Linked DNA regions of Homo sapiens. The protein of the gene in region 7 interacts with the protein of the main gene of each other region in a biochemical or structural test. Each region holds a gene or a part of one and is shown on either strand. Other genes may lie near its edges.

Evidence for each region.
Region 1: the proteins of NCL (region 7) and TERT form a complex in vitro, tested with the Homo sapiens proteins (one study listed by BioGRID).
Region 2: of the proteins of NCL (region 7) and CSNK2A2, one has a biochemical effect on the other in vitro, tested with the Homo sapiens proteins (one study listed by BioGRID).
Region 3: the proteins of NCL (region 7) and RAD51 form a complex in vitro, tested with the Homo sapiens proteins (one study listed by BioGRID).
Region 4: the proteins of NCL (region 7) and ADAP2 form a complex in vitro, tested with the Homo sapiens proteins (one study listed by BioGRID).
Region 5: the proteins of NCL (region 7) and TOP1 form a complex in vitro, tested with the Homo sapiens proteins (2 studies listed by BioGRID and IntAct).
Region 6: the proteins of NCL (region 7) and ADAP1 form a complex in vitro, tested with the Homo sapiens proteins (2 studies listed by BioGRID).

Annotation. Positions count from the first base shown.
Region 1 is NC_000005.10:1,267,569-1,271,068, forward strand, and holds part of TERT (telomerase reverse transcriptase), read right to left. Parts: intron 1,066-3,500; coding exon 952-1,065; intron 1-951. UniProt on the Homo sapiens protein: Telomerase is a ribonucleoprotein enzyme essential for the replication of chromosome termini in most eukaryotes. Active in progenitor and cancer cells. Inactive, or very low activity, in normal somatic cells.
Region 2 is NC_000016.10:58,170,607-58,174,106, reverse strand, and holds part of CSNK2A2 (casein kinase II subunit alpha'), read left to right. Parts: intron 1-2,820; exon of another isoform or gene 2,821-3,500.
Region 3 is NC_000015.10:40,712,174-40,715,673, reverse strand, and holds part of RAD51 (DNA repair protein RAD51 homolog 1), read right to left. Parts: intron 1-3,500.
Region 4 is NC_000017.11:30,938,945-30,942,444, forward strand, and holds part of ADAP2 (arf-GAP with dual PH domain-containing protein 2), read left to right. Parts: intron 1-3,500. UniProt on the Homo sapiens protein: GTPase-activating protein for the ADP ribosylation factor family. Binds phosphatidylinositol 3,4,5-trisphosphate (PtdInsP3) and inositol 1,3,4,5-tetrakisphosphate (InsP4). Possesses a stoichiometry of two binding sites for InsP4 with identical affinity.
Region 5 is NC_000020.11:41,031,822-41,035,321, forward strand, and holds part of TOP1 (DNA topoisomerase 1), read left to right. Parts: intron 1-3,500. UniProt on the Homo sapiens protein: Releases the supercoiling and torsional tension of DNA introduced during the DNA replication and transcription by transiently cleaving and rejoining one strand of the DNA duplex.
Region 6 is NC_000007.14:948,181-951,680, forward strand, and holds part of ADAP1 (arf-GAP with dual PH domain-containing protein 1), read right to left. Parts: intron 1-3,500. UniProt on the Homo sapiens protein: GTPase-activating protein for the ADP ribosylation factor family. Binds phosphatidylinositol 3,4,5-trisphosphate (PtdInsP3) and inositol 1,3,4,5-tetrakisphosphate (InsP4). Regulates the incorporation of CD63 and CD9 into multivesicular bodies.
Region 7 is NC_000002.12:231,454,485-231,457,984, reverse strand, and holds part of NCL (nucleolin), read left to right. Parts: intron 1-184; coding exon 185-342; intron 343-860; coding exon 861-984; intron 985-1,220; coding exon 1,221-1,354; intron 1,355-1,461; exon of another isoform or gene 1,462-1,541; intron 1,542-1,848; coding exon 1,849-1,975; intron 1,976-2,048; exon of another isoform or gene 2,049-2,185; intron 2,186-2,360; coding exon 2,361-2,584; intron 2,585-2,717; coding exon 2,718-2,794; 3' UTR 2,795-3,500. UniProt on the Homo sapiens protein: Nucleolin is the major nucleolar protein of growing eukaryotic cells. It is found associated with intranucleolar chromatin and pre-ribosomal particles. It induces chromatin decondensation by binding to histone H1.

The DNA.
Region 1 (3,500 bases), on a different chromosome or scaffold from region 7:
GACTTGCAACCAACCCAAATGTCCATCGATGATAGACTGGATTAAGAAAATGTGGCACATATACACCACGGAATACTATGCAGTCATAAAAAAGGATGAGTTCATGTCCTTTGTAGGGACATGGACGAAGCTGGAAACCATCACTCTGAGCAAACTATTGCAAGGAAAGAAAACCAAACACCACATGTTCTCACTCACAGGTGGGAACTGAACAATGAGAACACTTGGACACAGGGTGGGGAACATCACACACCAGGGCCTGTCATGGGATGGGGGGAGTGGGGAGGGATAGCATTAGGAGATATACCTAATGTAAATGATGAGTTAATGGGTGCAGCACACCAACATGGCACATGTATACATATGTAACTAACCTGCACGTCGTGCACATGTACCCTAGAACTTAAAGTATTAAAAAAAAAAAAGTAACTGCTGTCAATAAAAGCCAGCTGAGTTGAACCACATTAGGTTGGCACGATATTTAGGTGTGTGCGTCCTTGGGTGTAGACCCCATGCAAGTGGGATGGGCAATGGGCTGAAGAGGCGCCCAGTCCAGGCCACCTGTCGAGGGCCTGCTGGGAGATGTGGGGCCTCAGGCTGCACCAGCCCCATCTCCCCAAGGACCCTAACGGAACCTGGGTGACGTGACAGAAGCTGGTGTGCTTCCTCGGTGTTGAATTCACATGCTCATCATGCAGGGCAGCGGCCCTCCCGCCTGCTGAGCCCTGAGGCCTCTGGACATGGCCGCTGGACAGAGCCTGCGTGGAGCCCGCAGTCCTCAGGCTGTGCAACCCCTCCCGTGCGGCTTCATACCAAGAAGGGGCTGCAACCTTGTCTGGTTCCTCAAGACAGAGCAGTCATGGTCTCCAGAGCACCAGGAATATTAACACTGAATGCATCAAAAGCAAATCAACCCCCACCCAAGCCCCCCTGGGGAAGAGGAGGCCTCACCCGTCCCGCCGAATCCCCGCAAACAGCTTGTTCTCCATGTCGCCGTAGCACAGGCTGCAGAGCAGCGTGGAGAGGATGGAGCCCTGCGGGATCCCCTGGCACTGGACGTAGGACCTGGGGCGGGAAGACACAGGTGAGAGACGGGCAGGGCATGTGCTGGACATGCGTACACTCAAACCGAGCCACACACAGACACAGAACCTCATACACACAAACGACACGTCTACCATTCAGCCGGCAAACACCTCAGAAACATACCAGATGAGACCTCTGAACAAACAATCCCTGCTCCCCACTCTCACCATGCACTGGGGCGGCTGAAACAGATCCAGCCACAGGTGTGACCACATCCTTGCTCTGAATCATCAAGGTTTTCTTTCATTAAGGTTTCTTAAATCTTAGAGTTTATTCACAGAACCAGACACTTGACCCGGAATGAATGCTTAACCGGACTCCTTTTTTTTTTTTCAAGGAATTTGTCCACGGTGAAAGACTCATGACCCTACATGTAGCCGCTGCGCGCCAACGGATACAACCTTGCCCCTAGTTTCAGCATGACCAACGAGAAGCAGAAACTCTCCAAACAAGGATGCCAAGGGTGCGTTTTCAGACAAACAGTGAGAGCAGAATAGCCCCGTGGAACCTAAAGGTGCACACAGAAGGCATGGCTGCCACGCGACCCTCAGCCATCCCCAGAGCCCACAGGACGCCACTCCTGTTGCTAAGAGACGCTTGCAGCCTACTGCAAAAACAAGACCTGTTATTTTCGGGAAGCGCTATAGGTGGTCACCTTAAAAAGAGGCTTTCCGGCTGGGCGTGATGGCTCACACCTGTAATCCCAGCACTTTGGGAGGCCGAGGTGGGTGGATCACCTGAGGTCAGGAGTTCGAGACCAGCCTGGCCAACATGGCAAAAACCCCTCTCTACTAAAAATACAAAAATTAGCCAGGCGCAGGGGGTGGGTGCCTGTAATCTCAGCTGCTCGGGAGGCTGAGGCAGGAGAAATGCTGGAACCCGGGAGGCGGAGGTTGCAGTGAGTTGAGATCGCGCCACTGCACTCAAGCCCAGGCAGACAACAGTGACGTTCCGTCTCAAAAAAAAAAAAAGAAAGAAAAGAAAAGAGGCTTTCCTTGCTGGTGCAGATATCACAGTGATGGGCAAGAGGACTGCACTTTTTGCACAGAAGCACACGCACCAACTCTAGGAGTCCGGCCAGCCCAGCGAGTCAACGCAAGCAGATACGCCCCTGTGAGCACATGGGATGGGAAACTCTCTCTGTTCTTAGTTTTTGGGGCAACAGGTTTTGAAGACGTTTTTATTCAGAGGCCAAACTGGACCACGATGGGGACTAGAGCTTCGGGCCTGTCCGTGTCCTAGGGACAGGACAGACACAGTCACCTCCTGTCTGTCAGGGCATGAGGACGCAGTCATCACCTCACATTCCCCAAAGCCCTGCCACACGTGGACGGTACGTGACTTGATCCATCTTAATAAAATTCACGACCACGAAGGAGGCCCGTGGTGGCTTCTCTGGGGAGGTGACTTTGTCAGCGAATTCTGTGGGCCTGGGGGCCGCTTACACACATGTGCACACGTGTCCCTCGGCCAAAATTCACTCTGCTGCCATGTGCAATTTGTGTTTTTCCAGAACGTGTGTACTACTTAATATTTCTAATTATACTTTAATAAATATTATAATTGCTGATACCATTAGTGATTACTTATAATGCAATAATTAATAGTTATATTTTTAAATAAAAGCTTCCGAAGCTGTGCACAGTCCTTTATCCGCTGGAGACGATCCCAGAGAGAGGCCTCCACGTTCCACCTGACTGCGGATGACCTTGCTGATGACCTTGAGTGTGCACGAATTTCCTCCGTGCTACCACTCTCCCCAGGCACACACAGGGTCGCAGGCAGATGCCTGCCGGGAGGTGTGTGGTTTTACTTAAAATCCAGAGGACGTGATGTGGCACCAGGCACTGTGGCTCTACCACCGTGAGTGTGGCTCACCCAGTGGCTGTGTGACGGCAGCTCTCCCAGGCCGCCTGCCCCATGGCCACCACAGGCCCCCCGAGAGGAGCAAACTACACGGTCAACCCCGCACTTTCCAGATGGGAAATCTAGTCACAGAGAGAAGAGCCCGCGCCCTCGCGGGGGTCACACGACAGGGACAGGAATGAGAATCGGATAAAATCCTTTTGTATCGGGAGAGAGAGATACAAGCGTGTGAGAGCCGGGTGTCCAGCGTCAGTAGTAACTTGGAGCTGACAAGCTGCAGGCTCAAACGCTCGGCGCACACCTGACCCAGACACACCCCCCGCCCCTCGTCCTCCACGCAGGAGCAACTCCACACCCCGCTTGCCATTTCCAGGCCTCGTGTGGCACCTGCTCCGCTCCGGCTGCCGCAAGCCGAGCCATGTTTCCGGGGCCTCGGGAGCCTGCAGCCCAGGAGCCGGAGGGGGCGGGGGCCAGAAAAGGAGACTCTGGTGGCCCCGGGCAGAAGGGCAGTGGGGAAGGGGCAGGAGAGAGGTGAGCAGAAGCCCTGC
Region 2 (3,500 bases), on a different chromosome or scaffold from region 7:
TTCTTATAATTGAGTTAGCCAGGTGATTCTTTAGGTCTCAGTTGATTTGACTGGGGCAGGATGGTCCAGGATGACCTCATTCACAATCTAGGACCACAGCTGGGGCAGCAGGGATAGCTGAGGTCTCATCCTCCAGCCTGTGAAGTTCATGCTGCTTCCCATGGTGGTCCTCCTGGGGTTCCTAGCAGCAGAGAGAGGGAAACCTCAATGTATAGGCACTTTTCAACCCTCTACCTGTGTCATATTTGCTAATAACCCTATTGGCCAAAGCAAATCACATGGCCAAGCCTAGCTTCAAAGCATGGAAAAACCGACTCCACTCTTGATGGGAAAAGCATTGAATATGTAGGCATATTATAGAGAGACATGCCTACAGGGGTGGCAGGCATTTGCAGCCATCTTTCCTTGCCATGTGTCGTCATCCCCTTCTTGCATGAGTCTTCCTAACCTACCCCTGTAGCCGTGGCTCGTTAATGCAGGGAAAAGTGATGGGTAGAATGTCTAAGAGACTTACTAATCCCAAGCACAATGAAATTTGAAGAATTACTGGTTGGTGGAGGAATGATCATTTTGTTTGTCTAGATAAGCACTTAAAGGAATGCTCAGTTTGTAAAATGGAATACACCCATGGGTCCTAGATTTTTGTGTCCTGGATCACTAAGAACCTAATGAAAACTATGAACTGCCTCCAAAAATGCATGTATTAATATGCAGTCTTGTGAAAAGTTTTAGGGTAGTTGTAGATCTTAAGAACAGTTCTATGAAATGAATGTGTTTTTATAAGAACTTGTACGCACCACTTTTTATTAGAGAAAGCTGAGGTGGTGGATTTAAGGTTCACTCTTATGGCTAATGGGTCTTCCTTTTTGTCAGTAAGATCAGAAACACGAAAAAGGTCGAGCTTGATTTATCCCACGTTTCTCCATGTCTTCTCTAGACTAAAATTGAAGCATTGGTGTGGATAAAATTTGCAGTGCCATGATCCTGTGAACTGTCAGGCTAGCTCCTTTCCTGGAAGTGCTTCCTGAGTAATCCCATGCACTCTCACCCCATGAGAGCTACAATTCAGATCTCACAGTTGGTTATTTTTAAGTAAGATGGTTTGAGATTTTGTGTTATTTAACCATCAGCCAAAGCTAAAGTTGTATAAGCTAGCCTGCCCTTAGGTCCCATAAAGACATCCAACTAATGCAGGTCTTCCCAGGTGGACATGTGGGTGTCACTCAATGTCTGATGTCCTTTCTGCTTTCTGGAGGTAGCAGCTAGGCAGTGAGGACATATACTTATTTTTGCTAATGAGACGTAGAATCCCAGATGAAACTTGAAAAACGTCATTCATGCTTAATGGTCAGAAACTGTACGAGATTTTAAAACTGAAATAATTCCCCAAAGAATTTCAAAGCATGTCAGTAACTCCATAGGGAGTCCGACTAGGAAACTTGGCAAAAGAATTAATTACCTTACTGTATTTGTTCAGCCTTTGCTTTCATTGAGTATTTTTCACATGCCAGGTATTGTGGTCTTAATTAGTTTATTCCTTTGGACAAAGAGTAGGCAATATAGCAGAATCAACACTTGGTAAATTTTCTCTTTGAAAAGAAAAAACAGGAGTGGGGAAGACTAAATATTTAACTCCTTTGAAAATGTAGAAGCAACTGAGGCTGAGGGCTGCAGTGTGATGACTCGGTGACTTAACCTGATCTCCTGATTCAGATTCAAGGAGGTCTGCCCTCACAACCCCTGGTTTCATAAAGCACTGCCACAAAGGCACTTTGGAATCTTGCTACAGTTATTATAAAACAGAGGGAAAAAATTGAAGTAGAATGTAAGTGAAGTAAATAAATCTTAAACGTACAGTCTTTTGGATGTTTGTGTATGTAAAACTCTCACCCAGATTTACACAGGACGATGATATCCAGTATAGTTAGTAACCACTGCCCATAGGTAGCTATTTAAATTAAGTAAAATTCAAAATTTAGTTGCTGGCCAGACTCGGTGGCTCACGCCTATAAATCCCAATGCTTCGGGAGGCCAAGGCAGGTTGATTGCTTGAGCTCAGGAGTTCAAGACCAGCCTGGGCAACATGGCAAAGCCCCATAGCTACCAAAAAAAAAAAAAAAAAAAAAATATATATATATATATATATATGCATGCTCCAGGTGTAGTGGTACATGCCTATGGTTCCAGCTACTCAGGAGGTGGAGGTGGGAGGATCCACTTGAGCCTGTGAGGCAGAGGTTGCAGTGAGCTGAGATCATGCCACTGCACTCTAGCCTGGGCAACAGAGCAAGGCCCTGTACAAAAAAATAAAATAATAAAATAAAATTTAGTTCCCTAATCACACTAGGCACATTTCAGGTGCTCAGTGGCCTCATGTGGCTAGTGGCTACCGTATTATAGAGTGCAGGAATAGAATATTTCCATCATTGCAGAAGGTCCTATTGGACAGGGCTGGTAGAGGATATTGTGAACATCCTGCAGGGCTCTCTTGTGTTCTTCTGTTCAGTGTCTCCTCTGAAGATTATATCTTTATATGTATCCCCATAGTTAGTAGTGCCTGTTCTTGATCTTCAAATAACAAGCATTCTTTCTTTTTTTATCTGTCGCCCAGGCTGGAGTGCGGTGGCATGATCTCGGCTCACTGCAACCTCCACCTCCCGGGTTCAAGCAGTTCTCCCGCCTCGGCCTCCTGAGTAGTTGGGATTACAGGCACGCACCACCACACCTGGCTAATTTTTGTATTTTTAGTAGAAACGGGGTTTCACCCTGTTGGTCAGGCTGGTCTCAAAACTCCTGACCTCGTGATCTGCCCGCCTTGGCCCCCAAACTGCTGGGATTACAGGCGTGAGCCACCACGCCTGGCCATAACAAGCATTCTATATTGTATACTCTTGGTTCAGGGAAAAGCACAGATCGAGGGAGCTTATTCCTGGAATGCTAATCCTAGGGCTCATTCTCTGCCTTGTGTACTCCTCCAGCATGAAGAAGTCCATTCAAGTGTCCTCAAGAGTCTAGTTTATTGCTTCTTATCCAGGTCAAGCTTGTCCCCCAGGGGACATTGGGCAAAATCTGGAACCATTTTTGGTTGTTAAAACTGGAGGGGGGCTCTAGTGGTAGGTAGAGGACAGGGATTCTACTTGAAGAGTATTTCATTGACCTTGTGTAGGATTCAGGTGCTTGTTAAGATTAGCCAAAGGTCCTGAATTTGAAGTTTATGAAGATAGTTATTATGTTAGGCAAGGGAGATTTAGAAGCAAATTTTTACATTAAAAAAATGGAGCTTAACAATCTAATAAATGATTGAAAGATTTGAATCAGCATTTCTCCAAAGAAGATTTAGAATGGCCGGTAGACACATAAAAAGAAGTTCCACTTCATCACTCATTATGGAAATAAAAATCAAAACCACATGGAGATACCACTTTACACCCACCAGCAAAGCTATAATCAAAAAGTTGAACAATGACAGGTGTTGATGAGAATGTGGAGAAACTTGAACC
Region 3 (3,500 bases), on a different chromosome or scaffold from region 7:
TGGATTGCATGCTCTGTTCTCCAGCTTATTTGGCCCTTTCTACCTTGCCCTCCCAGTGCCATCATAGCCATCTTCTGTTACTGGATTGGGATACCATCAGGTTAGCTCTTCTTAATAACTGCTTAGGAGCATAATTTAACACTTCTCATTTTATAGTGATGCAGTATGTTTCTAACTTTTACCATTTTAATTATGCTTTGGTATAAATTATTTGTACATTTATCTTTGCATATATGTGAAATGTTCTGTAAGACAAATTTTCTGTCAAAGGGTATGTGATTTTTTTGTTTTGTGGTTTTTTGGTTTTTGGTTTTTTTTTGAGACAGAATCTTACTCTGTTGCCCAGGCTGGAGTGCAGTGGCACGATCTCAGCTCACTGCAACCTCCACTTCCCAGGTTCAAGCAATTCTCTGCCTCAGCCTCCCAAGTAGCTGGGATTACAGGCGCCCACCCCCACGCCTGGCTAATTTTTGTATTTTTAGTAGAGACAGGGTTGCACCATCTTGGCCAGGCTGTTCTTGAACTCCTGACCTTGTGATCCATCCACCTCAGCCTCCCAAAGTGCTGGGATTACAGGCGTGAGCCACCATGCCCGCATGGGCATGTGCTTTTAAAACTGGTACTTATGTTAAATTGTCTTCTCAGAACTGTTTTTATTTTTTAATTGAAATGGGATCTCGCCATATTCCCCAGTCTTGTCTGGAACTCCTGGGTTCAAGCAATCCTCCGGCCTCAGCCTCCCAAAGTGCTGGAATTACAAGCATGAGCCACCATACCCGGCCCAGAATTTTAAAACTACTGCAGTACTTTGAACAAGCATGGGCTAATTCATTTTGTAACCTAACTGTAGCTCTCAACTTTATGACTTTTCTATTAGAGAGAGACCTAACATATAATGGGGTTTTACTTCATTAAATTGAGAAAACAAATGAGAGTAGATAATATTTAGATTTAAGTAATAGTCTAACATCCTCTCTATATCCCTGGTTCCAGCTCTTAGGCTGATGAAATGTAATCTTTTCTATTATTAATTAATTAGCATTCTTTTTCTTTAAAAAAAGTCAACGATCTATATAGTTGTTCAGCCATCTGTAAATGTTATTTTAACAGGCTATATTTACTTGAGAATTTTGCTTTAGTTTATTGTTGACAGACATTATCTGACTACTTAAACATTCTCAGATTAGGATTCTATTTGTACAACTTTGGAGTGTCAGCATGCTATGCTGAGTTGCCATGGCAACTATAGATATTATGTACTGTAGTCTAAATACTTATTCTACATAAGTCCCTGTCAAAACATGGGAAAACATTTCTATTTAAAAAGGTCACATATCATGTCAAATGACGGATGTAAGAGTGACATTTTAAACAGCCCTAATTCCCTTTAGCTATCAAATTTCTAATGGAGCTCACGCAATAGCTATAGCTTCTATAACTTACTCTTCCTCTTCTCAATGTTTCCTCCCTTATTATCATAAAAGGTCTCCTAAGCATCCTCCTCCACCCCTCCCCCTCAGCTCTTTCTTCCTAATGATTATGAGGATCTGGGTGCAGAGGCATTCACCTGTAATCCCAGCTATGTGGGAGGCTGAGGTTGGAGGATTGCTTGCGCTCAGGAGTTCAAGAACAGCCGGTGCAACATAGTGAGACCCAATCTCAAAAAAAAAAAAAAAAAAGAATTTATTTCTGAGGAGAGTTAACAATGGATTAGGTCTACTCGATACTGACATGCTAGCTTGGCTGTCTCATAAGACATATGGCAGCCAGCCAGGCACGGTGGCTCACACCTGTAATCCCAGCATTTTGAGAGACCAAGGTGGGCGGATCACAAGGTCAGGAGATCGAGACCATCCTGGCTAATACGGTGAAAACCTGTCTCTACTAAAAATACAAAAAATTAGCCAGGCGTGGTGGCGGGCGCCTGTAGTCCCAGCTACTCGGGAGGCTGAGGCAGGAAAATGGCGTGAACCCAGGAGGCGGAGCTTGCAGTGAGCAGAGATGGCACCACTGCACTCCAGCCCAGGCGACAGAATGAGACTCCGCCTCAAAAAAAAAAAAAAAAATTGTAACATTTTGGTCTGCAAAGAAAATATCAGTGGAGCAATAAACAATTAAAATGACAACAAAAAGCCGGGCATGGTGGCTCACACCTGTAATCCCAGCACTTTGGGAGGCTGAGGCGGGTGGATCACCTGAGGTCAGGAGTTCAAGACCAGCCTGGCCAACACAGCAAGACCTTGTCTCTACTAAAAATACAAAAAATTAGCTGTGTTGGGTGGCAGGCACCTGTAATCCCAGTTTGGGAGGCTGAGGCTGGAGAACTGCTTGAACCCAGGAGATGGAGGTTGCAGTGAGCCAAGATTGCGCCACTGCACTCCTGCCTAGGCGACAGAGACTCCGTCTCAAATAAAAAAAAAAAAAAAAAGGAAAATAAGAAAAATGGGAGGCTATCAAGCTAGGTTACTTGATGTTAAATTTAAATAAACTTGGGCCAGGCACGGTGGCTCACTCCTGTAATCCCAGCACTTTGGGAGGCCAAGGCGGGCAGATTAACTTGAGGTCAGGAGTTTGAGACCAGCCTGGCCAACATGGTGAAACCTCGTCTCTACTAAAAATACAAAAATTAGCTGGACGTGGTGGCCGTCATGCCTGTAATCCCAGCTATTCGGGAGGCTGAGGCAGGAGAATGGCTTGAACCTGGGAGGCAGAGGTTGCAGCAAGCCAAGATCACACCACTGCACTACAGCCTGGGCAACAGAGCAAGACTCTTTCTCAAAAAAAAAAAAAAAAAAAGAAAAGAAAAGAAAAAAAAACTCAACAGAGTTGAGTCCCGAGGATAGAAAAACACTAGGAAGCCTCTTCTGTAACACTGATATAAGGCAGATTTTGTTTCAGTTGTTTTGATCTCCAACAGTAAGTTGTGCCCATGGCAGAAGTGGGTATAATCTATCTAGATTAAAATAATGCCATGTTTTTCAAAATAACTAAAATTATAATAAAGCTTCAAAAGATTATAACAGAAGAGTTGGTCCATGGGCATGGGCCAGGTTCAAGGATACTTTGTGGACTGGCCACTTATGCAGCACATCCTTAAAGCCAGAGAACATTAAGACTCACTTAGACAAGGAAAAACGGCTCCCCATTACACTGCCTGAAGTTGCAGAAAAGATGAAAGTTTGTTAGCTTTCTCTTCTATATCCTACTCCCTTCCTTTCTCATGGATCTTTCGTTTCCAGATTCCATTTTTACTTCTCTGTGTGACTTAGTTCCACATCTCTCAATACAGCTAGAAATTTTCACTCGGGGTTTGTCACCTCAAACCTGTCATCTCTAAACCTGTACTCATGTTTCCAACAAAACTGTCTTCCCCTCTCAAACACTTTTTAGGTTTACTAAGTTACTGTAATACATTGTTGGGCTGAGGTGTATTTTTTATTGTCAGTCATCAAGCGCTGCCCTTTACAACATCTTTTCCCTACTTCTCTTTATTGTCACTA
Region 4 (3,500 bases), on a different chromosome or scaffold from region 7:
ATTTCACATGTACCCCATAAATTTGTATAAATAATAATATAAAAGGTCTGTCCAATGTGGCCACAGTCTGGGACCAAGTAAAAAGTGTTAAGGGATGAAGAATCTTTACCCTCCAAGTTAGAGGAAGAATTTTTTCCCAGTCTTCAATGTAAAGCACTGAAAAATGTGGCTTTTTCAACATTTTTGCTGAAATGGTACAAAAGGCCGGAAGAGAAAGCGCTACTGCAGTTAGGAAAGGTCACCAAACCCCAGCAGCTGCTGCGAGTTGGTCTCTCGGACAGGGCCTCATCATTGGTTGAAAAAAGTTGATCTGTTTTTCAGTCCTACGCCAGTTCAGTCTAGAATAGTCCAAAAATAGAATGGGCTCCCTATGTTCTTTTTTATTTATTTCCCAAAGTGGATATTTTAAAATCATAAAGGTAACTAATTTTTAGGTAAAACTTTTGGGTAATACAAAAAAGGAAATGAAGTATAAAGAAAGTGAAACTGAAAAAAAAAAAAAAAAGCCCCAAGCTCTATACAAAGCACTTCAAAAAGTTCTTGGAGGCCAGGCTCGGAGGCTCACACCTGAAATCCCAGCACTTTGGGAGGCCGAGGCAGGCAGATCACGAGGTCAGGAGATTGAGACCATCTTGGCTAACACGGTGAAATCCCGTCTCTACTAAAAATACAAAAACTTAGCTGGGCGTGGTGGCAGGCGCCTGTAGTCGCAGATACTCAGGAGGCTGAGGCAGGAGAATGGCCCGAACCTGGGAGGCGGAGCTTGCAGTGAGCCGAGATGGCGCCACTGCACTCCAGCCTGGGCGAAAGAGCAAAATTCCATTTCCAAAAAAAAAAAAAAAAAAGGTATTGGACAAATGAGATTAAAATTAAAGATATAAACTTTATTTCTCAACATAAGCTCCATCAAGGTCAAGACACTTTTATAAGTGATGACACCAGCCATTTAGTCCATCCCCTAGCAATTGAGGGTCCTGGGAATTTAACCATGCCAATGCAGTCTTTTTTACATTTTGTTTTTTTATGCTGTTTTCTGAGACAGGGTCTTGCTCTTTCACCAAGGCTGGAGTACAGTGGTGCAATTCTAGCTCACTGCAGCCACAACCTCCCAGGCTCAAGCGCTCCTTCCACCTCAGCCTCCCGAGTAGCTGAGACTTCAGGCACACACCACCATGCCTGGCTAATTTTTGTATTTTTTGGCAACGACAGGATTTCATCATGTTGCCCAGGTTGGTCTTGAACTCCTGAACTCAACCGATCTACCAGCCTCAGTCTCCCAAAGTGCTAGGATAACAGACATAAGTCACCACGCCTGGCCTTTTTTTTTACACTATTAACTGAAGAAAGATGGGTACCCTTTACAGATTTTTTTTTTTTCGAGATGGAGTCTCGCTTCATCGCCCAGGCTGGAGTACAGTGGCACGATCTCGGCTCACTGCAACCTTCGCCTCCCAGGTTCAAGTGATTGTCCTGCCTCAGCCTCCCCAGGAGCTGGGATTACAGGCGTTGGCCACCATGCTGGGCTAATTTTTGTATTTTTAGTAGAGACGGGGTTTCACCATGTTGGCCAGGCTGGTCTCGAACTCCTGACCTCAAGTGATTCGCCCGCCTTGGTCTCTGAAAGTGCTGGGATTACAGGCGTGAGCCACCATGCCCGGCCTCCTTTACAGATTTTTTAAGATTAGAAAACAAAAAGAAGTTAGAAGGAGCCGAATTTGGACTGTAAGATGATGCATAATCACTTCCCATTGAAACTCTCACAAAATTGCCCTTGTTTGATGAGAGAAATGTAGTTGAAGCATTGTCCTGGGGGAGAAGGACTCTCTGGTGAAGTTTTCTCAGATGTTTTTCTGCTGAAGCTTTGGCTAACTTTCTCAAAACACTCTCATAATGAGCAGATGTTATTGTTCTTTGGCCCTCTAGAAAGTCAACAAGCAAAATACCTTGAGCATCTCCCAGAAAACTTTACCATGGCCTTTGTTCTTGACTGGTCTGCTTTTGCTATGACAGGACCACTTCAACCTCTCGGTAGCCATTGCTTTGATTATGCTTTGTCTTCAGGATCATACTGGTAAAGCCATGTTTCATCTCCTGTTACAGTTCTTCAAAGAACTGCCTCAGGATCTTGATCTCACTTGTTTAAAATTTCCATTGAAAGCTCTGCTCTTGTCTGCAACTGATCTGGGTGCAATGGCATTGGTACCCATTGAGTGGAAAGTTTGCCCAGCTTTAATTTTTCAGTCAGATTTGTGTGAGCTGCACCAATTGAGGTATCTGTGGTGTTAGCTATTGTTTGTGCTGTTAATTATTGCTTCTCTTCAATTAGGGCATGAACAAGATGATTTTTTTCATTGTAAATTGATGTAGATGGTCTGCTGCTGCAGGCGCCATCTTCAACATCATCTTGTCCCTCCTTAACAAGTTATCCATTTGTAAACTGCTAATTTTGTTGGGGATTTGTCCCCGTAAACTTTTCTGAAAGCACCAGTGATTTCACCATTCTTCCATCCAAGCTTCACCATAAATGTTGATGTTTGTTCTTGCTTCAATTTTAGCAGAATTCATGTTGCTCTGAGAGGGGCTGTTTTCAAGTTGATGTCGTATCCTTCTTAGTGCCTCAAACAAAATCCCACTCAGACATGTTATAACAAGTTAGTATGAGTTTATTTTGGTGCAAAACAATTTGAAATCCATGCATAGCTTTTTCATACTATGTGTTTTCCATGAACTTTTCTAAGTCACCTTGTATAAGAGTATTATATGATCTCATTTATATGAAATTTTAGAACAGGCAAAACTGTACTGATAGAAGACAAATAAGTGGTTATCTGGTGTTGGAATGGGGTAGAGATTCTGCGAAGGGGGATGAGTGAAGTCTTTTGGGGTGACATTTAGGATGATAAGTAATGTTTTATATCTTGATTGTTGTGGTTACATGGGTATATACATTTGTCAAAAATCAAACTATTTTTTTTTTTTCGAGATGGAGTCTTGCTCTGTCACCAGGCTGGAGTGCAGTGGTGCGATCTTGGCTCACTGCAGCCTCCGCCTCCTGGGGTCAAGCGATTCTCCTTCCTCACCCTCACTAGTAGCTGGGACTACAGGTGTGTACCACCACTCCCAGCTAATTTTTGTATTTTTAGTAGAGACAGGATTTCACCATGTTGGCCAGGATGGTCTCGATCTCTCAACCTCGTGATCCACCTGCCTCGGCCTCCCAAAGTGCTGGGATAACAGGTGTGAGCCACAGTGCCCGGCCCAAACTTAATACGGGTACACTTTATTGTTTCTAAACTACACCTCAATAAATGTTGATTAAGTGAAAATTAACAATGAGATACAATTCCATACCCATCATATTGGCAAAAATTTTGTAATCTGGTAGTGTCAAGTGTTGGTGAGTATATGGGGAAAGGGGAACTATTCTATTTCATTGATGGAAGTAAATATTGGTACAATCACTGTTGAGCCATTCAGCAGAATAATTTGGCAGTCTCTAG
Region 5 (3,500 bases), on a different chromosome or scaffold from region 7:
TATTTTCTTACAGAGCTGAAAAAGGAGAGAAGGAAGGATTTGATAATTTGTCATTTGCTTTTTATCTAAACATGCTTTTTGAAGAGAATCTGCCACCATAAAGTTCTGACATTGGTGTAATTATTCTTTGTGAATATTGTCTGGAAGATGTGGTGTTGGTAACTATGCTTGCTATCTCAAGTAATACATTGTTAACCAGTGATTGATTTATGTAACTATGAAAAAAACTTTAAAAAAAGTAGAAATCAATGTTTAATTATGCCCAGACATGTCATTATTGAACTTTGTATTAAGAGATTGTTTAAGCGTGATTTTAAGAGGGCCTAACCCATCTTACAGATTAACTGTACAAGTTCATATATTAAAATCAAACGTCTCTCATTTTGCCTGCCCTCATCCCCTAAGATATAAAAGATTCCCCCCCGTCCCCCCACTTTGGAGCTCATTCTTCGCAATATTTAAAATTGTAGCTCTTTGCATGTAATTTAGAACATTCTGACCCATACTCAACTGCTGGGAGACTCTGTTATTTATATTTAAAATGTTGACAGTGAGTTAGGAATTTGGAGCAGAAACCATATCTAAGTCTAAGTGAAAAGACTTCCTAAGTATTGGTAGAACTAACTGTAGTGGGGCTGAGTCATTATTACAGTACTGTACAGGCTGCGTAGCTATCTGTAGAATTGATAATGGTAATACCAGGTTAAAGTGTTAGCGATTCTTCTGCTGTTTCAGAGGTCTTGAAGTTTTTGCCTGTCTGCTATGGAGATAGGGAGTTCTCCCCCATTTGACCCCCTTAGCAAAGCACAATACTTGGCTCCATCAGTCTTTAGTCTAAGAAGTGATATATAGGATCATGGTTTGACATCATCTTGTGCTGATTCTGGTTGGCTTAATGGAATCAAATTGGATGAAGGTAATTAAATATGAATTGTTTCTGATGCTAATAGATAGTTGTACTTCTGTCTGTTGGGTATGGGTTGGGATGGGCGGTAGCATAGCTGATTGCGGTGGGGGAATTTCAGATAGCTGATGATGTGGCTATCTGAAAATTGCCACTACATTTTTAAAACTGAAAAGTGATGGTACCGCCAAATGAAATCTGCAGCATCCTCAGACTCAATCAGGAAATACTTAAGCATTATGCTCCAGGGTGGTTTTCTTCCCTTACATTGCAACTGGACTCCTTGAGGCACCTTTTTAGAATTAGTGAGCCGCTAGGATTTTTATACTATGCTTTGACATAAAAGAAAGTTGCTTGTCAATATGTGTTTTTTTAGTTTACCAGCATATCAGATCTCACAAACAAATTTTAGGCTCGGATTGGATGTTTCTAGTAAAAACAAGAAAATCCAGGCATCACTAAAAGAATCAGAAATACGTTGTGGCTTGAAAGGTGCAAACTAAATAATATAGCTAGCAGTAACGGTCACCAACTCCTGCTTTTCTTTGGTTCAGTAGATAGAGTAAAATGGAAAATAGGAAACCAAGGTCAGTCCCCAAATCTCATTTTAACCAATAGCAGCAAAAAAAAAAAAAAAAAAAAGGAATTGAGTCTGACTTTTTCCCCTTGCTGTCAGCATAAAGATGGGGAATTGAGAGAGTTGGAAAGACATTCATTAGTTTGTTCAGATTATTAAATAACATGTCTTAAAGTTTATATTCCAAAATTGGGCTGTGAGGTTTTTTTGTTTTGCTTGTTTTCAGTGCATGTGTGGGGTGGGGAGGTGCAAAAAAATGTTTGCCTTCTAATATACAGCTTTGTTGTATATTAATTATATAGTAACAGTTGTCCCTGCTGCTAATGGTATGGAAAATGATTCTGTTGTGCTTTCTGAATACATATCATTTTAGAAGTTTCAGATTATACTAAAACCATGTTATTTCATATTAGTTGGACATGAATGCATATTTATATGACACATCATTATCAACTTTTGCCTTTTGCCATCTTTTTAGTGCAAAGTAAAACTGATATTCTTCAAATCCAAAGTCGTTTCCTCAGAAGTGTGTTTTGTGAGGGATTGCATCTTTCCCATGTGAAACTGTGTCGAACTCCAGTAAACTGTGTTTGCTTGGGAAAATGAATTCAAATGTAATTAGTTTGAATGAAGCTGTGGAAATGTTTGAAATGAGTATTTTGACATTGGACCTGGAGGTTTAAAAAAAAAAACCCTATTGAAAGAATAGTAAAATATATTGGATGTGGAGGTGAGAGTCAGTTGAGTGAATTTTCTGTGTTGTATGGTTTAGATTATCTGACTATCCCTTAATTATTTTGAAACCATTAACTTTGGATAATAAGGGCATTTAGGCAAACAGTTGACACATGGATTTCTTAAGGTAAAAAGTTTAGAGACTTCCAAACTAGTCCTTAAGAGGCGAATGGGTATTGTGTTTAAAGGAAGCTTTCAGATTGTGTTTAAACTTCGAGTAGTAATATTTGGAACTGTCTTTTCTCCCTATTTCCATGCCTCATACATCTCAAGTTTGAGCAGCAGCTTTCCATCCCCATGGCTCCAGGCCAATAGCTGCAGTAGAAAATCTAAAATAGAGGCCAGGGTTGGAATAATTAGCATTTTGCCAACCCCCACCCTCCCTGCCACCTGCCTATCTAGATGTGGACAGTATGTGCTGTGTTGATAGCATAGGGCCTGGGAAGGGTGGAGAGGGATGTAAATGAGGGCAGGGTGGACAAAGTTTGATTGGGGGTTGCGGGGAAGCTTGTAGAGGAATGTCTGTTAGATATTGATGGTATTTTGGTGGCGTTATGAGAAATGGCTGATAGTTTGCTGAAATGATTTAATAGTAAATAGATATTGTTGAACATTTTCTGTGTGTATAGGAAAGATCCTAGATATTTTTCACACTGGGAGAGAAGTGATGTTACTGGTATCTCATGCATATCTCTGGAGTATATAGATCGTAATATCAACTTTGGCTATCTGTATCGAAGTTTGTATTAACTGTCTTTATGTGTGTCATTTATGTCTCTTAACGTTTAGTAAGAAAGAAATTCCAAGGAAGGTAGGCAACTTTTAATTTTAACTTCTTTCCTTTACTTTTTTTTTGGGCGGGGTGGGGGGCAGACAGGGTTTCTGTTTGTTGCCCGGGCTGGAGCGCAGTAGTGTGATTGCAGCTCACTGCAACCTCTGCCTCCTGGGCTCAAGCGATCCTCCTACCTCACCCTCCCAAGTAGCTGGAACTACAGGTGCATGTCACCACGCCGGGCTAATTTTTGCATTTTTTGTAGAGACGAGGTTTCTCGCCATGTTGCCCAGGCTGGTCTTGAACCCCTGGGCTCAAGCAGCCTGCCCACCTCAGCCTCTCAAAGTGCTGGGCATGAGCCACTGTGCCTGACCCTTAATTTCTTTTTGGTAGGTATTCATTTTTCATTTGTTGTCTTAAGCTTCTAGTTTCACTCACTTACCTGTCTGCTAAATTTTTCTGAAATGTGTAATAAATGTTTTAATTTACCATCTCCCTTCTACCCTTCCCAT
Region 6 (3,500 bases), on a different chromosome or scaffold from region 7:
GACCCAGCCATGTCTGTCCCTCCCTCCTCACCCCATGTCTGCCCTGCCCCCTTGCCCGGGTGGGATCCCAGGTCCATCAGTGCAATGCCCTCTGCCCCTCACCCCTCCCTCCATCATTCAGTACGGAGCCCACCTCTGTACCCACCGAGGCCTGAGCTTCTGAATGGAACACGCCCTGCAGAAGCGCTCCATGGTGGCCCGAGTTTCGGCTTCCCTCCCCGCCGGCCCATGGCCTGGCCTCGTCCTCCATGAGGAAAACAGTCACTTCCAAAGCCTTCCCCTGCATGCCAGGCCGAGCTCCCACTGCAGGTCTCTGCCCCGGTCTTAGCAGAACTTCTCCAAATGCATCTCCAGGTGCCACGACCCCCTCTGGCCTCTCATTCACCTGCTAAGCTGTCACCACCACCACCTGGACAGTGACTTGGGGTCAGTTTGCTCCTCCCTGACCCACCTCCCAGCCCATAGGTGCCCAGTACTCCTTCCTGAAAACGCGTTTACGGGGCATCCAAGATTCTATGTCCTTTTTTTTCCCTTGAGACAGAATATCACTCTGTCGCCCAGGCTGGAGTGCAGTGGCATGATCTCGGCTCTCTGCAACCTCTGCCTACCAGGTTCGAGCGATTCTCCCACCTCAACCTCCCGAGTAGCTGGGATTTCAGGCGTGCGCCACCACACCCAACTAATTTTTGTATTTTTAGTAGAGATGGGGTTTCACCATGTTGGCCAGGATGGTCCTGATCTCCTGACCTCGTGATCCTCCCGCCTCAGCCTCCCAAAGTGCTGGGATTACAGGCGTGAGCCACCATGCCCGGCCCTCACTCACAATTCTTACTCTACCCTCGGCCCTCCTTGTCCCCAAGTGCCATCACCATCTGTCTGTCTTTGTCTCCCCACCAAGGAACAGCAGATGCTGAGAGTGAAGGGCTGGTCTGGTCCGGTCTCCCTGAGCCCCAGTGACTGCACAGGGCAAGGCACTCAGTACATGTGTACGGAGCGGGGGAAGGCGCCTTGCCCGCCGGAGTCCAGGGTAGGGCACCACTGGAGTTCAGCCCTTGTGGGCCTCTGCCTCCCCCGGGCACATGAGCACATACCTCCTGGCCACACGGCCACGTGCCGCCTCAGCCACCTTGGACCCCACCAAGTCCCTTCCTGTTTCCTCATTCTTTCATTTGCAAAATGGGGCCATGCAGCCACCTGACGGGTGACGGGAGAAGCAGTTGGGGGATGCGGCTGGCTGCCAGGTACTGCCACAGAGCAAGGCTTGGCAAATGCCTCTGAGTCTAAAACGGCAGTGGCCTAGGAGCACAGGGCCTGGGGGCAGGGGCAGTGCCACACCTAACCTGAGATATGTCCAGAGCTGAGGTCTAGCTCACAGCATCTGTGCGTCGGGGAAGCTGGCTGCGGTCACGGCCGGTGCAGCGGCCCAAGGAGTCCACAAAGCAGTAACCTTGGCCCACACCACAGCTCCGGTGCATTTGGAGAGGGGGCCCAGTCTAGGCTGAAGTTGGGGGGAGCCTGGCCAGGGCCTGGGCACCAGGCGCAGGACAGAGGGAAAGGCCTCCAGCTCCTCCCAGCCCTGAGTGCCAGCTCATCGCCCACACCAGCCCTCCACACCCGGCCACAGGGCAGGCAGGCAGGAAGCGGGCACGTGTGACCTGCTGGCCTGTGGCTTGAGTGCAAAACCAGGTAGGGGAAACCTGTCTAGCAGTTCTTCAACCAGGTAAGCACAGAATCGCCATGGGACCCAGCAACTCCAGTCCTGGGTACAGACCCAAACAACCTGAAGCAGGGTCTCAGAGAGACATCTGCACCCTCGTGCTCACACAGCACGATTCACAATGGCCCAGAGGTGGGAGCAGCCCAGTGTCCGCCTGCAGACAAACGGGCACACGCAATGTGGTTCATCCACACAGGGTATGATCCTGTCTTCACATGCAGGGAAATCCCAGCACTCGCCACAGCATCTGTGAACCTGGAGACGTTAGACTGAGTGAAACTGGCCAGTCACAAAAGAATGAATACCAGCCGGGCATGGTGGCTCACACCTGTAATCCCAGCACTTCGGGAGGCCGAGGCAGGCGGATCACAAGGTCAGGAGATCGAGACCGTCCTGGCTAACGTGGTGAAACCCCATCTCTACTAAAAATACAGAAAACTTAGCCGGGCATGGCAGCGTGCACCTGTAGTCCCAGCTACTCGGGAGGCTGAGGCAGGAGAATGGCATGAGCCTGGGAGGCGGAGCTTGCAGTGAGCTGAGAAGGTGCCACTGCACTCCAGCCTGGGCGACAGAATGAGACTCTGCCTCAAAAAAAAAAAAAAAAAAAAATGAATACCGCATGGTTTCACTTCTACAAGGTCCCTGGAGTCATAAGATTCATAGAGACAGAAAGTTGAGGCCAGGCACGGTGGCTCATGCCTGTAATCCCAGCCATTTGGGAGGCCAAGTTGGGAGGATGACCTGAGGTCAGGAGTTCAAGACCAGCCTGGCCAACATGGCGAAACCCTGTCTCTACCAAAAATACAAAAATTAGCCGGGCGTGGTGGCAGGCGCCTGTAATCCCAGCTACTCAGGGGACTGAGGCAGGAGAATCGTTTGAACCCAGGAGGCAGAGGTTGCAGTGAGCTGAAATGGCGCCACTGCATTCCAGCCTTGGGAACAGAGCAAGACTCCGTCTCAAAAAAAAAAAAAAAAAAAAAACAAGAAAAGAACAGAAAGTAGAAGGGTGGGTGCCCCGGACTGGGGAGAGGAAATCTGGAGCCCTTGTTGAATGGGGACAGAGCTTCAGTTTGGGAAGATGAGGAGGTTCTGGAGATGATGGTGGTGGCGGTGGCACGGTGAGTGAACGTGCTCAAGGCCCTGGAACTGTGCACTCGAAACGATGAGAAGGTAAATTATTATTTTTAAAAAATCCGGCCAGGCGCGGTGGCTCATGCCTGGAATCCCAGCACTTTGGGAGGCCGAGGCGGGTGGATCACGAGGTCAGGAGACGGAGACCATCCTGGCTAACATGGTGAAACCCCATCTCTACTAAAAATACAAAAATTAGCCGGGCGTGGTGGCGGGTGCCTGTAGTCCCAGCTACTCGGGAGGCTGAGGCAGGAGAATGGTGTGAACCTGGGAGGGGGAGCTTGCAGTGAGCCGAGATCGCACCACTGCAGTCCAGCCTGGGCGACAGAGCGAGACTCCGTCTCAAAAAAAAAAAAAAATATCCAACCTAGTTGGGCCGCTGCCCTGGGGAGTGAAGGGAGTCTGCCCAGCCCCCGCCCACACTCAGCAGCCTTCTTCCCACCCTCACCCATGCCGGCCAAATTCCTGAAACTGGGAGTTGGAGGTTGCAGTGAGCAAAGATCGTGCCACTGCACTGTAGCCTGGGTGACATCGAGAGACTGTCTTAAAAAAAAAAATTAGCTGGGCATGGTGGCATGGACCTGTAGTCCCAGCTACTCAGGAGGCTGAGGTGGGAGGATTGCTTGAGCCCTGGAGGCAGAGGCTGCAGTGA
Region 7 (3,500 bases):
AAAATTCCAAGTATTTGTAAAACTAGTGGGAAGTAAGAGGGAAGCTCGAGTTTTGATTGAAAAGTGGCATAAAACTAAGGGCATTTATTGTACTCAGATCTGAAGCAAGTTCTGTGTTGCTGAGGTAAAAGCATTTGTGTTAATATGGTTTTAAAAACCATGAGTTCTTCTCCCTCCATTGCAGGATTGCTTATATTGAATTTAAGACAGAAGCTGATGCAGAGAAAACCTTTGAAGAAAAGCAGGGAACAGAGATCGATGGGCGATCTATTTCCCTGTACTATACTGGAGAGAAAGGTCAAAATCAAGACTATAGAGGTGGAAAGAATAGCACTTGGAGTGGTAAGAAATTAGGCTTGTTACAAGGTTTCAGAATTGGTGGAGGGAACTCCTTTGTGTCTTTGTATTTCATAAGTTTATAAATACTTTTTAATCAAAGTTACTCAAATGTAGGTGAAGATCAAGGACATGATACCCCAAGTCATACTCTTATTTGGAATAGTAATTTCCAATCTTGAATGAGAGCTCTAAAATCATTTTGCATTGGAATACAGTAGGCAAATCAAGCTTCCTTTGTAGGCATGTTTTATACTTTAAATGACTTGACCATGTGCGTTTTGAACTCAGATGATTCTAGGAAAACAGACCAGTCATCAGCCTATGTAAGAACAACCAGCAGGACATTGCAACACGTACTAGGTACTTAATATGTTGAGTAACAGAAATGGATTTAGCTTACGTCATGAGTATTTGTATATTAACTCAAGCACTGAAATTCTTAGGAATAAGATATTACTGTTGTGACCGAAGCTGGGAACCACTGTTTCAGAGTCTTAGGAATGTGGCATCTCTATTTGCAGGTGAATCAAAAACTCTGGTTTTAAGCAACCTCTCCTACAGTGCAACAGAAGAAACTCTTCAGGAAGTATTTGAGAAAGCAACTTTTATCAAAGTACCCCAGAACCAAAATGGCAAATCTAAAGGGTAAGATAATACCTTTGTATCATCAGTTATAGGCTATATATGTCTTAGAGGTCTAAAGGAACGTAAGGTCATGTGATCCTGTCAGAAAAGCCAAATAATTTTAGCTACGTAAATGAGTGTAAAATAAAGATCATCATTTAGGTACCAACTTGAGAGAAGGGGCTTGGCAGCATCATGTGACAGTGAAGGAGCATGTGCCTGGTAACTTACTCTAAGCATTAACTGTTCATCCTCAGGTATGCATTTATAGAGTTTGCTTCATTCGAAGACGCTAAAGAAGCTTTAAATTCCTGTAATAAAAGGGAAATTGAGGGCAGAGCAATCAGGCTGGAGTTGCAAGGACCCAGGGGATCACCTAATGCCAGAAGCCGTAAGTTCACCTGGTTAGGGTGCTGTGGTTGGGGGTAGCACTCTCGGTGCTTTGTTTATTTTTTGCACAAATTCTGTGTTTCCTGTTGCTACTGAGTGAACAATAACTGGATATGATGACTGATTACCTGAGAAATAATTGATGAAATCTCAAGAAAATTCCTCTAGATAGTCAAGTTCTGATCCAGCTGTGTCAACTCAGAGTAGCAAGTTTGCCCATGATTTCCTGCCCCATCCACTGGGCCCCACCTGCTTGGGTTGCTTCTCCCACTTTCCATAGAAGATCTGGGGCAGGATATCAACTATGCAATGGCAATTAAAAAATGTAAACCCAGAATAGCCTTTACTTTAATTAAGGACTAGTTGGCTTAGTTGCTTTTAACTGCTTTTTCACTATAACAAGTATTCTTGGCTAGTAGTCATACTAGGCATTGTGCAAATTCAGTGTTACGAACTGTGACTTCACATAAAGTCACATTTTTTTTTCCTTCCCAGAGCCATCCAAAACTCTGTTTGTCAAAGGCCTGTCTGAGGATACCACTGAAGAGACATTAAAGGAGTCATTTGACGGCTCCGTTCGGGCAAGGATAGTTACTGACCGGGAAACTGGGTCCTCCAAAGGGTAAGGGAAGGAAGCGTGAGTGCTGCTTCCACTTGAAGGGGTTTTTGTTCTGTGCAGACCTTGAGTCTAATGTGTCTTCTCATTGAGCTCCTTTCTGTCTATCAGTGGCAGTTTATGGATTCGCACGAGAAGAAGAGAGAATTCACAGAACTAGCATTATTTTACCTTCTGTCTTTACAGAGGTATATTTAGCTGTATTGTGAGACATTCTGGGGTTCAAGCTGTCACACCAGTTAGTTTTCCATAGAGAGCTACTCTGTCACTGGTATCTTTTCCCAAATAAACAAGGCTACTTTCTGTGGGATGGCTCCCCAGCATGTACAGTTAACTTGGGACATGTGTAGTAGGTGCTTTTTATAATGGGCAATTTCATTTGGTGTTCTAGGTTTGGTTTTGTAGACTTCAACAGTGAGGAGGATGCCAAAGCTGCCAAGGAGGCCATGGAAGACGGTGAAATTGATGGAAATAAAGTTACCTTGGACTGGGCCAAACCTAAGGGTGAAGGTGGCTTCGGGGGTCGTGGTGGAGGCAGAGGCGGCTTTGGAGGACGAGGTGGTGGTAGAGGAGGCCGAGGAGGATTTGGTGGCAGAGGCCGGGGAGGCTTTGGAGGTAAGGCACGCAGAGATAATGACACCACATAGCATGTGCTCTTCAGACCCTGTGCCCTGTCACGGTTCCTAATCACTGGGGAGGAGGAGCTTTGTACCCATTCTTTTAACAGTGTCTTGCCTTCCTCCTGTAGGGCGAGGAGGCTTCCGAGGAGGCAGAGGAGGAGGAGGTGACCACAAGCCACAAGGAAAGAAGACGAAGTTTGAATAGCTTCTGTCCCTCTGCTTTCCCTTTTCCATTTGAAAGAAAGGACTCTGGGGTTTTTACTGTTACCTGATCAATGACAGAGCCTTCTGAGGACATTCCAAGACAGTATACAGTCCTGTGGTCTCCTTGGAAATCCGTCTAGTTAACATTTCAAGGGCAATACCGTGTTGGTTTTGACTGGATATTCATATAAACTTTTTAAAGAGTTGAGTGATAGAGCTAACCCTTATCTGTAAGTTTTGAATTTATATTGTTTCATCCCATGTACAAAACCATTTTTTCCTACAAATAGTTTGGGTTTTGTTGTTGTTTCTTTTTTTTGTTTTGTTTTTGTTTTTTTTTTTTTTGCGTTCGTGGGGTTGTAAAAGAAAAGAAAGCAGAATGTTTTATCATGGTTTTTGCTTCAGCGGCTTTAGGACAAATTAAAAGTCAACTCTGGTGCCAGACGTGTTACTTCCTAAAGAGTGTTTCCCCTGGAATGTCACTGGAGAGCATGGCAAAGCCAGCTCTGCCACTTGCTTCACCCATCCCAATGGAAATGGCTTAGTGCGTGTTTCCAGTATCCCAGCCCTAACTAACTTGGTTGAAATGCTGGTGAGGGGACCTGCTCCTGCAGCCCTGGTGCTGACTTGAAGGCTGCTGCAGCTTCTCCTACTTTTAGCAGGTCTGAGGATTATGTCCTGAAGACCACTCTGGAAAGAGGTGCAGG